Homo sapiens: one gene and its partner. The protein of the gene in region 1 interacts with the protein of each later gene in a biochemical or structural test. Each region holds a gene or a part of one and is shown on either strand. Other genes may lie near its edges.

Region 1 (7,102 bases):
AGGCCAAGGCAGGAGAATGGCATGAACCTGGGAGGCAGAGCTTGCAGTGAGCTGAGATCACGACAGCCTGGGTGACAGAGCAAGACTCCATCTCAAAAAAAAAAAAAAAAAAAAAATATCAGGCATGGTGGTGCCCCGCTGTGGTCCCAGCTACTCAAGAGGCTGAGGTGGGAGGATAACCAGAGCCCTGGGAGGTAAAGTCTGCAGTGAGCTGTGATTATACCACTGCACTCCTGCCTGGGTGACAGAGTGAAGCCGTGTCTCAAAAAAAATGCTTTGGAGGTCCAGGAAAGGGGACCTTGGAACTGTGGTGCTGTATCCTGCAAGACTCTCCTGAAAACTTTAGAGAAGTGTTTGTCTCCCATAATTGATTTCTGTGCAACAGCCATGGGTTGAGACCAATTTAAGAAAATCTTAAGTGTGGCCGGGCGCGGTGGCTCACGCCTGTAATCCCAGCATTTTGGGAGGCCGAGGCGGTGGATCACGAGGTCAGGAGATCGAGAGCATCCTGGCTAATACGGTAAAACCCCGTCTCTACTAAAAATACAAAAAATTAGCCAGGCGTGGTGGTGGGCACCTGTAGTCCCAGCTACTCAGGAGGCTGAGGCAGGAGAATGGCGTGAACCCAGGAGGCGGAGCTTGCAGTGAGCCGAGATCAGGCCACTGCACTCCAGCCTGGGTGACAGAGAGAGACTCTATCTCAAAAAAAAAAAAAAAAAAAAGGAAAAAAGATCTTAAGTGCATATTATTTATAGGGGAATTTTGAAATGGTTCCTATGAAACCATTATTATTTTTCATATTAACAGGTAGTTTCTGCACTTTTTAAGCCCCCAACAGCCTTTTGGTAGAAGCCATTACCCCCAGCATGTAGCCAGTCATGTAGGCTGATCTGGGCTCCATTTCAACATGAATAATAAAAAACGCTGCTGCCCATTAAAAAAAAAAAAAAACTGAGCAGCCACATTTGGAGACAGCATGTTCTAGGATTCAACCCCAGAGGGAATTTTGATGCTGATATTAAATACCCCCTAAAAAATCAGGTTTATAATGAACACATAAGAGGCTCCATAATTAAACACTGGTTTAAATTGCACATGTACAACACGCACCAACCTCCCATCTAGACATCAACTTACCCAGCTGACTCTTACATAAGAAAATAGTATTGATACCAAGATTAGAAATTTGTGGGTTTTTTGTTTTTATTAGGTTTCATAATTATTTTAAGCTCTAGTAACTAAAAAGGGGGAGGAGGAAGAAGATGATGCAGATTTTTTTTTTTTTTGAGACAGAGTCTCTCTCTGTCTCCCAGGCTAGAGTGCAGTGGTGCAATCTCGGTTCATTGCAACCTCCGCCTCCCAGGTTCAAGCAATTCTCCTGCCTCAGCCTCCCGAGTAGCTAGGACTACAGGCATGCACCACCACACCCGGTTAATATTTTTGTATCTTTAGTAGAGACAGGGTTTCACCATGTTGGTCAGGCTGGTCTTGAACTCCTGACCTCAAATGATCCTCCTGCCTTGGCCTCCCAACGTGCTGAGATTACAGGTGTGAGCCACCGTCCCTGGCCAGATGATGCAGATTTCTCAACATCTGCAAGCTTGCAACATAAATGGCCAAAAGCAAGGAAATTCCAAGTGCATGCTTACATTCCATTTTTCCTTGATACTTTTGGCCTGGTGATTTATTATAGGGTTTCAGATGAGTGTGTTCTATTAGCTGCCATATGTACACAAAACACCAGGGGACAAACTGAGGACCAAGGGGACAGCTGACCGTTGAATATCTCCAATTTGGGGATTAAGTTTGAAATGGTTGGTTTGTGAATGGTAGGAGGAATCTTTAGCCTATGCACTGAGCCTGTCAGCTTGGATGATGACCATGCCCAAGAGTGGAGCCTTACTCCCTGGAGTCCATAGAAACCCTGAAAGCTGTTAGGCTTTGTGTTTCCTGTAGGCTGCAACTGTTCCCTTCAGGGAGCTGTAAGTGTCTCAGGTTTTGAAAGTTGTCATGATGAGGTTATCTAAACCTCATGGAATCTTCCACCCTCTCCAAGGTTGACCTTATAATACGAATCACTTCTCACCTCCAACATAGAACCATGTTATTAGCCAGGTGTATTTTTTCTCATTAACTCTATTTGGGGTTTTTGGTTTGGATTTTATTGTTTTCATCGCTTTTAGTTTTTGGTGTTTTCAATATGAAGCGGTGAACTCAATGGAGATACAAAGGGTGAGAAATTCCCTCTAGTTGAATCCACTATATTCAAGTAATGGGATTGCAAGTTGCATGGTGGGAAGCTAACATTTAACATACTAAGCAGATCATAAAATGTCTTACTAGAAAAAAAGTCCTTTACTTTTTTCTGCCTAGCTTTCAAAGACTTCCTAAACCTGTTTTACAACCCGAAGCATGGGACTCTGATATAACTGCAGTTCTACATCATAGAAACTTCAATGAGACTGAGTATCCCTCATTGCCCTGCGTCAAACTATAGCCCCATAAGAAACTAACAATTAGATGCAATTTGCCTTTTTCCCTTGCCATACTCATTTGTCTTTATTTTTGTGTCATGTATAAGCTCAAGAGACCAATGTGATGATTATTAATGTAGAAGAAGTAATGATATTTGTACTGGAAAAGGCAGCTACTAGTACAAAAAATAAAAAGAAATAATGATGATAAGCAAAGTCTCTTAGGTATAACATGTCCCTAAAATTCAGGGTTTTTTTTTTAAAGGGATTTAAGGAAAAATACCTGTGAAATAGGTGTGATTTCTTAAAACTTTTGTTCCCACGTATTCCTAAACCAGCATCCTCAATCTTACCCAAAGATGCTAATTGGCAGACCCACCCTTCCTTCCTTCCTGCCTGCCTGCCTTCCTTCCTTCCTTTCTTCCTTCCTTCCTTCCCTCCCTCCTTCCTTCTTTTTCTTTTTTTTTTTTTTTTTTGTGAAAGTTACACTCTTGTTGCCCAAGCTATAGTGCAATGGCATGATCTCGGCTCACCGCATCCTCCACCTCTGGGGTTCAAGCGATTCTCCTGCCTCAGCCTCCTGAGTAGCTGGGATTACAGGCACCCACCACCACACCTGGCTAATTTTTGTTTTTTTACTAGAGATGAGGTTTTGCCATGTTGACCAGGCTGGTCTTGAACTCCTGACCTCAGGTGATCTGCCTGCCTCGGCCTCCCTAAGTGCTGAGATTACAGGCACATCTTTTCTTAACAGAGAAGAACAAAGTTCAAGGGATGAGATGGAAAAAGGAGGGGAAGAATACCAGCTCAGTACAACTGTTTTGTGACTGCTCTGCTAAGACATGTCAGGGCAGAATGACAGCAGTTTTGAAAGGGCTTGTCAGTCAGCTGGGTCATAGATGGAAAGTTAAAATGACCTCCTAAGGTCAAAGTTTATATGGCTGCATAATGCAGTAAATGAGTCGAATTGGTACCCACAACTTCTGTCAGTAGGGTCACATAAGGAGTGTGTCTGTCTCATTGACTATAATTTATTTCATTCAACAGCAAAGCTATATTTGCGGTGGCACTGACTGTCTGAATTTTGACAACTTCATTTTGGGCTTTAATAGAAATGTAGTTTGCTGCAACCTAGAAGGACTTAGTCTCCTCTGTCCCTCTGGTAGACAGGCTGCCAAGAAATCTTCATACTTTGTCAATATTTTAGCATTATCTGCATATCATCTGGCCCTGAGTAGAAATTATTAACACTTATGCATTGCTAATCTTCAGTGCATCATATTGAATACATTGGGAAGGGATTTGCCCTGTTAAGGAAAGCAGGGAGTTGCAATAGGTTTGTTGTTTGTCGTTAACATGGGGTTGGTTGGATTTTTGAAAGAGAAATGCTTTAAAAAAATCTTTCTCAGGAGTATCATAAAACACAACATGTAATTTAAAACCCATTTGGATAATTGACTGATTTGACAAGAAGACAACCTTAGAATTAAACTATATATTAGAATCAAGGAGTGATATGATTGTATACCATCAGTACATAATACTTTGCTATTTTGATAGGTATCTCATAAGGGACTGAAGCGAATATGCATATTTCCCCTAATGTTTCTGTAATTTAGATTTCTTTGTTTAGAGCCATGATTGGGGAGTAATAAAGCTTTACAGAAACTTCACGAGCTGATTGACAAGCCTGTTTTCAAGTAAAACTGCTGTGTGGAATATTTTATTTCATAGCAAAACATGTCTGTGTATTTGGTTTTCTTCTGACTGTCTTTTGAAATATGTTACCAGGTTTCATCAGAGCAAGAAAAAGAACAAGAGACTTTAATAAGCCAGAAAAGCATCCCTGAGCCTCTCCCAGCAGCAGACATGAAGAAAAAAATAGAAGGGTATCAGGAATTTTCAGCGAAGCCCCTGGCATCCAGAGTAGACCCAGAGAAGGACAACGAAACAGACCAAGGTTCCAACAGTGAGAAGGTGGCAGAGGAGGCGGGAGAGAAGGGGCCCACACCTCCACTCCCAAGTGCTCCTCTGGCCCCAGAAAAAGATTCAGCCTTGGTCCCTGGGGCCAGCAAACAGCCACTCACCTCTCCTAGTGCCCTGGTGGACTCAAAACAAGAATCCAAACTGTGCTGTTTTACAGAGAGCCCTGAAAGTGAACCCCAAGAAGCATCCTTCCCCAGCTTCCCCACCACACAGCCACCGCTGGCAAACCAGAATGAGACGGAGGATGACAAACTGCCCGCCATGGCAGATTACATTGCCAACTGCACCGTGAAGGTGGACCAGCTGGGCAGTGACGACATCCACAATGCGCTCAAGCAGACCCCAAAGGTCCTTGTGGTCCAGTCGTTTGACATGTTCAAAGACAAAGACCTGACTGGGCCCATGAACGAGAACCATGGACTTAATTACACGCCCCTGCTCTACTCTAGGGGCAACCCAGGCATCATGTCCCCACTGGCCAAGAAAAAGCTTTTGTCCCAAGTGAGTGGGGCCAGCCTCTCCAGCAGCTACCCTTATGGCTCCCCACCCCCTTTGATCAGCAAAAAGAAACTGATTGCTAGGGATGACTTGTGTTCCAGTTTGTCCCAGACCCACCATGGCCAAAGCACTGACCATATGGCGGTCAGCCGGCCATCAGTGATTCAGCACGTCCAGAGTTTCAGAAGCAAGCCCTCGGAAGAGAGAAAGACCATCAATGACATCTTTAAGCATGAGAAACTGAGTCGATCAGATCCCCACCGCTGCAGCTTCTCCAAGCATCACCTTAACCCCCTTGCTGACTCCTACGTCCTGAAGCAAGAAATTCAGGAGGGCAAGGATAAACTCTTAGAGAAAAGGGCCCTCCCCCATTCCCACATGCCTAGCTTCCTGGCTGACTTCTACTCGTCCCCTCATCTCCATAGCCTCTACAGACACACCGAGCACCATCTTCATAATGAACAGACATCCAAATACCCTTCCAGGGACATGTACAGGGAATCGGAAAACAGTTCTTTTCCTTCCCACAGACACCAAGAAAAGCTCCATGTAAATTATCTCACGTCCCTGCACCTGCAAGACAAAAAGTCGGCGGCAGCAGAAGCCCCTACGGATGATCAGCCTACAGATCTGAGCCTTCCCAAGAACCCGCACAAACCTACCGGCAAGGTCCTGGGCCTGGCTCATTCCACCACAGGGCCCCAGGAGAGCAAAGGCATCTCCCAGTTCCAGGTCTTAGGCAGCCAGAGTCGAGACTGTCACCCCAAAGCCTGTCGGGTATCACCCATGACCATGTCAGGCCCTAAAAAATACCCTGAATCGCTTTCAAGATCAGGAAAACCTCACCATGTGAGACTGGAGAATTTCAGGAAGATGGAAGGCATGGTCCACCCAATCCTGCACCGGAAAATGAGCCCGCAGAACATTGGGGCGGCGCGGCCGATCAAGCGCAGCCTGGAGGATTTGGACCTTGTGATTGCAGGGAAAAAGGCCCGGGCAGTGTCTCCCTTAGACCCATCCAAGGAGGTCTCTGGGAAGGAGAAGGCCTCTGAGCAGGAGAGTGAAGGCAGCAAAGCAGCGCACGGTGGGCATTCCGGGGGCGGATCAGAAGGCCACAAGCTTCCCCTCTCCTCCCCTATCTTCCCAGGTCTGTATTCCGGGAGCCTGTGTAACTCGGGCCTCAACTCCAGGCTCCCGGCTGGGTATTCTCATTCTCTGCAGTACTTGAAAAACCAGACTGTGCTTTCTCCACTCATGCAGCCCCTGGCTTTCCACTCGCTTGTGATGCAAAGAGGAATTTTTACATCACCGACAAATTCTCAGCAGCTGTACAGACACTTGGCTGCGGCTACACCTGTAGGAAGTTCATATGGGGACCTTTTGCATAACAGCATTTACCCTTTAGCTGCTATAAATCCTCAAGCTGCCTTTCCATCTTCCCAGCTGTCATCCGTGCACCCCAGTACAAAACTGTAGGCTCAGCTCTGCCCAGCAGTCCAAAGCGGCATGGCCAACAGAGCTTCACTCCTTACCCAGGAGTGCTGGCTTATAGAGTTAGAAGTCAGTATTTCTTCTAATCTGAGGCTATGATCAGTCCCAGCTGTAGGGGCCCAGAGGGGAGGTGAACATGCCTGATTTTTGTGGGACAACTCTAGCCCACAAACTGACTGGCTGGTGAGTCTTGACTCCCTTCCAACACAGATGCCCAGGCACCTCCAGATCATTCACTTCGCACGTGGGCCTTGTGAAGGGATTTGTGAATATCCAGGAAGAACTTAGAGGACCCCATCTGAGTTCGGATGGTCAGGAAACAATCTGGGCAAAAAAGAGGCAGGCATTTCAAAGGAAGGGGCAAGGAAGACTGGCAAACAGATGGCAAGGGATGCCCCTCTTTTTCATAAAACTCTCCAAGGTTCAATCAATGCAATGTATAGTGAAACTTCAATAGATCTTTCATTTTGACACTATTAAACAATCCAGAGAAGTAAACACTGTTAAATTGACTGTATATATTTGCTTCTTAAAACTACCTGTATCACTGTTTGCTCACCTAATTTATATACAGGTAGTTCCATTTTCTCCCAGTTCCTTCTCGTCTTTTTTTTTTTTTTTTTTTTTTTTTTTATTAAATGGTATTGCTTTTG
Region 2 (7,000 bases), on another chromosome or scaffold:
AGGCATTCAAAGGTACTGGTCACTCCGGGGTGGGCGTCCAAGCCTGGGGCTCTTGGCTGTGGGGGCAGCCAGACCTGGTCAGGGCTGACTGTCTGGGTGTGAGTGCCGCCTTCCTGTGGCCTGAGCAAGTCCTCTTGGGACTCAGACCCCTGGGGCTCAGTTTCCCCATCTGTATAATGCAGGACTAGATTGAACAGGCTGGGCCTCTCCTTCCGATTGGACTGTCCCTTGTTTTAGAACGAACACTGGGCTGTGGGTTGAGAGGGGTGAGTGTGCATGGCCTCAGTGCAGGTATCAATCACACCTGCTCCACCCTCCACACTTGCCTCCATTGGGAGGGTGGAGCCCTGGCTCTGTCACCAGCTGAGGAGTGGGTGCGAGTGGGCTCTGGGTCCCCTTAGGCTCCCTCAGGGGCCTGGCAACTGGACCGTGAGGCAGGCTTGTGGCTCGGTGGCCCTCTGTGGATGCACTTTGGCATCCCCGGGCCGCCCTTTTCTGTCCCAGGTCCTGCCTGGCCACACCCTCAGAGATGAGAGCAGGTGGCTCCTGCCAGCCACCACCCTGTCCAGGCCTCCAGACTGCCCAGCAGCGTGAGGGAGCCTGCAGGAGAGTTTGCATTTATGCGTGATTTCCTTTCTCGGTGTGGTTGCTCTTAGTTGCTCTTTTTTGGTTCTAATAGCAGCCAAGAGCTCTTTTATGCAGACCCTTTGTACTCTGGCCCTAGTTTGAGAAGGTAAAATGGTCCTTAGTCACGGCTGGCCAGGTTGCGGTAAGATTTTCCCACTGTTCCCCAAATCTGGAGCCCTGAGCTTGACTCTGGCAGAAGGAAGTGCCCAAGATGGGAGTCTAACCCTGCCCTCAGGGGACTGGTGCCAGGGAGGCAGGGATCAGGGCAGCACCTGGGAAGCCACCCCACAGGGCCAGCCTGACTACTGGCCAGCCAGGCCACTGTGGCCATATCCTCTCTGCCTGACCCTCCCTCTCTGAGTGGACGACAGTTCAGTTGGCCCCCAGGACTGAGAGGACCCAGGGAGCTGCCATGGTCCTGGTGCGTCAGAGCCCTGGAGCCCTGGAGCCCTCTTCAATGGGAAGAGGGAGGGGAGGCCCACAGCAGGAGCACACCTCCCAGCTGAAATGTAGTTGGTCCCTACACTGTGCTAAGGGGCGCCATGAGGTGGGAAGAGATGCTTGGGGATGCCTGGTGTGGGCCCATGGACAGCCTGTGGCCTGGGTCCTGGCATGACTGTGTCCCCTTGCTCAGGTAGGGCTGGGGTATTGGGCAGAGTGAGGAGAGCAAGGCAGCCTGTGTTAGGGGCCTGGAGGGTGAGACAGTGGGAGGATGGTGGGAGGGCCAATCTTTCCTCAAGCAGGGCAGGCCACCAGGAGGATGGGCGCCCCCAGGTTCCAAGAGGAACTGTTGGCAGTTGAGCTGGTGGCCATGGGCGGAGGGAGACCTCTGGAAGGCTGGACCTGGCATCCCCCGGTCTGGCTATGTGGCTGGGCATGAAGGCACCTGTGGGCAGCAGGCACCCACCCACCTCACCCAGTGTCTCCTTCCCAGGCTCTCACAAATCTGGGAAGCAGCTGCCCCCTCATCTAGTCCAAGGAGCTAAAATTCTCAATGGTGCTTTCCGATCGTGGACGAAGAAGCAGGTAGGAATCATGTCACAAATGCCCTAGGGCAGGAGAGCAGTGACAGGCGGGAGGACCTCCCTGGAGACCCAGCAGCAATGTCCAGGACTTGTCCTGCTTCAGTGAGATCCAGCCTGGGAAGGACGGTGGTGCTCCCCTGCCTGGCTTGGCCCGGGGTGTGCCTTTGCCCCAGACACCCCATGGGTCCGTCCCCTGCTGTCCACTGATTGGGCCACCTGAGGGCTGGGGGAGGACAGATGTAGATGCAGAGCCCCCTCCATCAGGGGCTCACAGCTTAGTCACAAGTTGGTGGGAGGAGGGTGACCAGGTGCTGGTGTGTCCTGGGAGGAAGGTGGGTCTGTGGGTGGGGGACAGATGGCCTATGGTGGGATGACACTGTGTGAGCACAGAAAGGCCTGGAACCTGGTGGGGGCAGGGAAGGACTGGGGGAGTGGCTGGCCCCAGGACAGGGAGTGCTGGGGACACCCTGTCGGCTCCTCCTGGCTGGCCCTGGCATCAGCTCAGAAGCTAAGCTGCCTGATTGCAGGTGCAGCACCCCAGCCACCTTGCTCTGTGACCCGGGCAGCCCCTCCCTGTGACTCTTACCGATGACCATCCTGTGCGCGCCCCCACAGAAGCCACTTACTGTGTTGCTTAGCATCTTCCCTTGGTTTTGGCTACAGAAGGGAGGGGAAGGTCTGGCCCAGCCTCGAGCACCCTCTGGGACAGTGTTTCCTACTGGGCTCATTGTGCAGAGGTACTATGCCCACTCTTGAGGGAGGAGGACCCTCTCCCAGGCCAGAGAAGGCCAGTGGAGATTTACAGGAAGCCTTCAGGGAATACAGGCTGCAGGGAATACCATGTGTAGCCTGCCTTTCTCATGGGTGGGCCAGGCAGGAGAGGCAGCCAGTGCACTCCCAGGGCCATCCTGCAGCCACCACCTCCGTCAGGCCTCAAGGCCCAGGGCAGTCCAGGGCGCCCCTGCCACCTCACCTTAGCCATGTGGCTGGGTGGAGTGGCCTCTGACCAGGAAGAAGGGATGGGACCCTTGTCCATTCCATAGCCTGCTGGTGGTGGCCTCAGGCAAGCTTGTCCTCTCTGGTACTTGGTTTGTCCACCTATTGATGGGGGCTCACAGCAGAGACCTCTTGCCAGGGCAGAGTTTGGCTCGGAAGCCCCTCGCCTCATGCTCATCTGAGTGGCTCGGCAGTCAGGCGACAGCCTGCAAGAATGCAGGGGTAAGTCAGGACCACGGGAGGTGTCTGGTGCTGACCCTGGGTCCGGTTGTCCTGCAGGCTTTGGCAGAGCATGAGGACGAGCTCCCGGAGCACTTCAAACCTTCACAGCTAATCAAAGACCTGGCCAAAGAGATCCGGCTCAGTGAGGTGGGGCCGTGTCCAGGTGCTGGGCTGGACCCCTGGGGATTGGGGAGGGCCCACCTGTCTTTCTCTGGGTCCAGGGGCCAGCCTAACACAGAGCTGCCAGGTCTGGGAAGGCCAGTGCCCCAGATGGTCCTCCTTGCACTTTCCTGGGCAAGCTTGCCTTTGTGAGGGCTCAGGGTCCTAGGTCTCTGGCTGGGTCTGTGTCCTGGTGTGAGTGTGTAGGGACTGAGAAATGGCACCAGCCTCTCTGAAACTCCCATGGGGAGGGCACTCTGTGGGAGGAGCCCCTGACTCAGCCCCTGCAGTCCCAGCTTGTGTGTTCCTGGATGAGCCCTCAGCCGCTGTGCTGGGGTAGGACAGAAGAGCCTTGGGGAGAGCAAGTGACTCATGGCATGTCGCAGGTGTGAGTGTGTCACACAATAGCATGGGTTGGGTGTGAGTGTGTCACATGATGGTGTGGGGTAGCTGAGCCTTTCTGGGCTGATAGTTCCCCGCCAGCCTGGCACTGAGTGTCTCCAGCATCCTGGTGTGTGGACCGTCTTGGGCCACAGTTTGGCAGAAGCAGCATGTGACCCTCTCCTTTCTGTATCCCAGAATGCCTCCAAAGCCGTCCGACCGGAAGTGAATACTGTCGCCTCGTCAGATGAGGTGTGTGACGGGGACCGGGAGAAGGAGGAGCCCCCGTCTCCCATTGAGGCCACCCCGCCTCAATCCCTCCTGGAGAAAGTGTCCAAAAAAAAGACTCCCAAAACTGTGAAGATGCCCAAGCCATCCAAAATCCCCAAGCCCCCGAAGCCCCCTAAGCCCCCAAGGCCCCCCAAAACGCTGAAGCTCAAAGATGGAGGCAAGAAGAAAGGGAAGAAGTCCCGGGAGTCAGCCTCACCCACCATCCCCAACCTGGACCTGCTCGAAGCCCACACCAAGGAGGCACTGACCAAGATGGAGCCGCCCAAGAAGGGCAAGGTGGGACCCCCTCACCCTGACTCCCCACCTTATCACCAGAGGTGCTGCAGCATCTCTTGTGGGCCAGTCCCATGGAGATAGCTAGGGCCCATTGTCCTTGTTCCCCAGGGGCCCCTGAGAAGATGTGGGGGTCTGGGCTCTTGCTGTGGGCTTGTATGCCCAGAAGATGCACTTCCTTGCCTGGTCCTGACCCAGTCCTGCAGCATCCAGGCCCAGACCCCCCAGAGTGGACAGGCTTTGCCCAACAAGCCACAGAGCAGTGGGCCTGAAGAGGGTCCCTCACTGAGGAAGGCAACACAATGTGTGTGTGCTGTGGCAGAGGTGGCACCCAAGAGGGCCACCTGGTGGAGGAGGCATGGTGGTTTTCCAGAAGGGGATGTCTAGTTTAGGTTTCCTAGCCAGATGAGCAGTTGCCAGGGGACAAAGAAGCCCTGGGTCCTCCCTGGGGCCAAGACATTGAGGTTGAAACCTGAAGGTAGATGAGGTGTCTGTGCAGAAACAACAGGGAGAATGCCATTGGAGGGGAGGGGGTTCAGGGGTGAGGACAAGAGCAGGGTGGCCCTGATAGTCTGAGCCCCTGTGGACAGTGAAGAGATGGGCCCAGCCCTGAAGACCCACTCTGACTAGAGGATCTTAGGTCTGGGCTTCAGGGACCATGAACCCCTGAAGCACCATTGAGTGTGAGTTTCTGCCAGGAGGAGGTCGTTATCTGCTTCCTGGGGGCCAGGAAACTTCAGGGCCGGCATCACAGGGGTGTAGTGGGACGCTTTTGTGTTCTCTTTCTCAGGGCAAGCATGAATGAATGCATGAGCAAATGAATGGATGGCTAAATGGCTGGATGAATGGGTGAATGAATGAATAGGTGGATGAATGGATGGATGAATGGATGAACAGACGGATGGATGAATGAATGAATCAGTGAATGGCTGGATAGATGGATGGTTGAATGGATTAACGAATGGATGAATAGATGAATGAATAGATGGCTACATGAACGAATTGATGGATGGGTGGATGGATGGATGAATAAATGGATGGATGGGTGAATGGGTGGATGGATGGATGGAAGGACGAATAAATGAATGGGTGGGTAGATGAATGGAATAATGAATGAATGGGTAGATGAATGGATGAATGGATGGATGGATGGAATAATGAAGGGATGGATGGATGAGTGGGTAGATGGATGGATGAGTGCATAAGATGGATGGGTAGATGGATAGATGAATGGATGCATGGGTGGATAGATGAAAGAATGGTTGGATGGTTGGGTGGATGGATGGATTGATGAATAAATGGATGGATGGATGAGCAAATGGATGGATGGATGGAATGGATGGGTAGATGGATAGATGAATGAAAAAATGGATGGATGGATGAATAAATGGATAGATGAATGGATGGAAAGGTGGATGAACAAACAAATGGATGGGTGGATAAATGAATGGATGGATGGGTAGATGATGAATGAATCAACAAATGGTGAGTGGATGGATGAGTGGATGGATGGTTGGGTGGATGAATGGATGGATGAACAAATGGGTGGGTGGATGAATAAATGGATGAATGAATGGATGGATGGATGGATGGATAGACAGAGGAATGAATAGATGGATGGATGAATGAATGGGTGAGCAGATACATGGATGGATAGATGAACAAATGGATGGGTGGATAGGTGGGTGAATGGACTGATCGATGGATAAATGAATGGATGGGTAGATGGATGAATGGGTGGATGATTGAGTGAGTGGATGGGTGGATGAATTAATGAATGAACAAATGGATGGATGGATGAATGGATGAGTGGATGGGGAGATGGATAAATGGATGAGTGGATGGATGGATGGAAGGATAGATGAAAAAATGGATGGATGGATAAATGGATGGGTAGATGGATAAATAAATGGATGAGTGGATGGATGAATGGGTGGGTGGATGAATGGGATGAACGAATGGATGGATGGGTGGGCGGATGGATGGATGGATGGATGGATGGATGGATGGATGGATGAACAAATGCATGGTGCATGGATGGATGAATGAACGAATGGGTGAGTGGATGGATGGATTGGTGGATGAATGAACGGGATGAATGAATGGATGAATGGGTTGGCAGATGAATGAACGGATGGATGGATGAACGAATGAATGAATAAATGGATGGATGGATGGGTGGGTGAATGGGTACATCGATGGGTGGGTGAATGGATGCGTGGATGGGTAGATGGATGGAGGCTTGAGCTGCAAGCACATGGGCCAGAAGAAGACAGGGAATCTGTGGCTCAAGAGAGTTCCACCAGCCCTCTATGTCTGCCTCTGGGTCACAGCAGCCCTTTTTTCTAGGCCACAAAGAGTGTCCTGAGTGTGCCCAACAAAGATGTGGTTCACATGCAGAATGATGTGGAGAGGCTGGAAATTCGAGAGCAAACCAAGAGCAAGTCAGAGGCCAAGTGGAAGTACAAGGTGAGAAGTGCACATATGCATGCACACGTGTGTGTGTCAGCTTGGTGAGTGTGAGCAGAGGTGAATCTGTGAGGCCCTGTGTGTGTGAAGGAATGTGCAGACATGTGTCTGCTTGTCCTGAGTAGGTAGTGCTGTGGGGTGTGCTTACGTGGGTCTGAGGTGTGTGTGACCACCCATGGACTACATCTTCCTCTGAGTTGGTTGGGATGCAAGAGGTTGAATGTACACCCTGTATGTTGACAGTGTTTCCCTTCACGGTCCACACACTGGTTTTCATTCCCACTCCATGGGGGTCAGGCAACATCGAGGCACTGAGTCCATGGGGTGCAGGCCCCTGAGCACCCCGCAGTGGCCCGGGTGGCCACCAGAGCTATGGGTGACTTTCCTTAGTCGTGTTCCCAGTAGCTGCCTCTTCTCACTGACACTAATTGGGGTCCTGACCCCCCACTTCTGTGTGGGGCTCAGGGACGGCCCTGGTCTTGCTTTTCAGAACAGCAAACCTGACTCCTTACTGAAGATGGAAGAGGAGCAGAAGCTAGAGAAGTCGCCTCTAGCTG

What was found. The genes of interacting proteins can lie anywhere in the genome.
Region 2: the proteins of ARID5B (region 1) and PHF2 form a complex in vitro, tested with the Homo sapiens proteins (one study listed by IntAct).

The regions. Positions count from the first base shown.
Region 1 is NC_000010.11:62,086,597-62,093,698, forward strand, and holds part of ARID5B (AT-rich interactive domain-containing protein 5B), read left to right. Parts: intron 1-4,265; coding exon 4,266-6,434; 3' UTR 6,435-7,102. UniProt on the Homo sapiens protein: Transcription coactivator that binds to the 5'-AATA[CT]-3' core sequence and plays a key role in adipogenesis and liver development.
Region 2 is NC_000009.12:93,656,584-93,663,583, forward strand, and holds part of PHF2 (lysine-specific demethylase PHF2), read left to right. Parts: coding exon 1-12; intron 13-1,561; coding exon 1,562-1,653; intron 1,654-2,927; coding exon 2,928-3,017; intron 3,018-3,608; coding exon 3,609-3,977; intron 3,978-6,323; coding exon 6,324-6,443; intron 6,444-6,933; coding exon 6,934-7,000. UniProt on the Homo sapiens protein: Lysine demethylase that demethylates both histones and non-histone proteins. Enzymatically inactive by itself, and becomes active following phosphorylation by PKA: forms a complex with ARID5B and mediates demethylation of methylated ARID5B.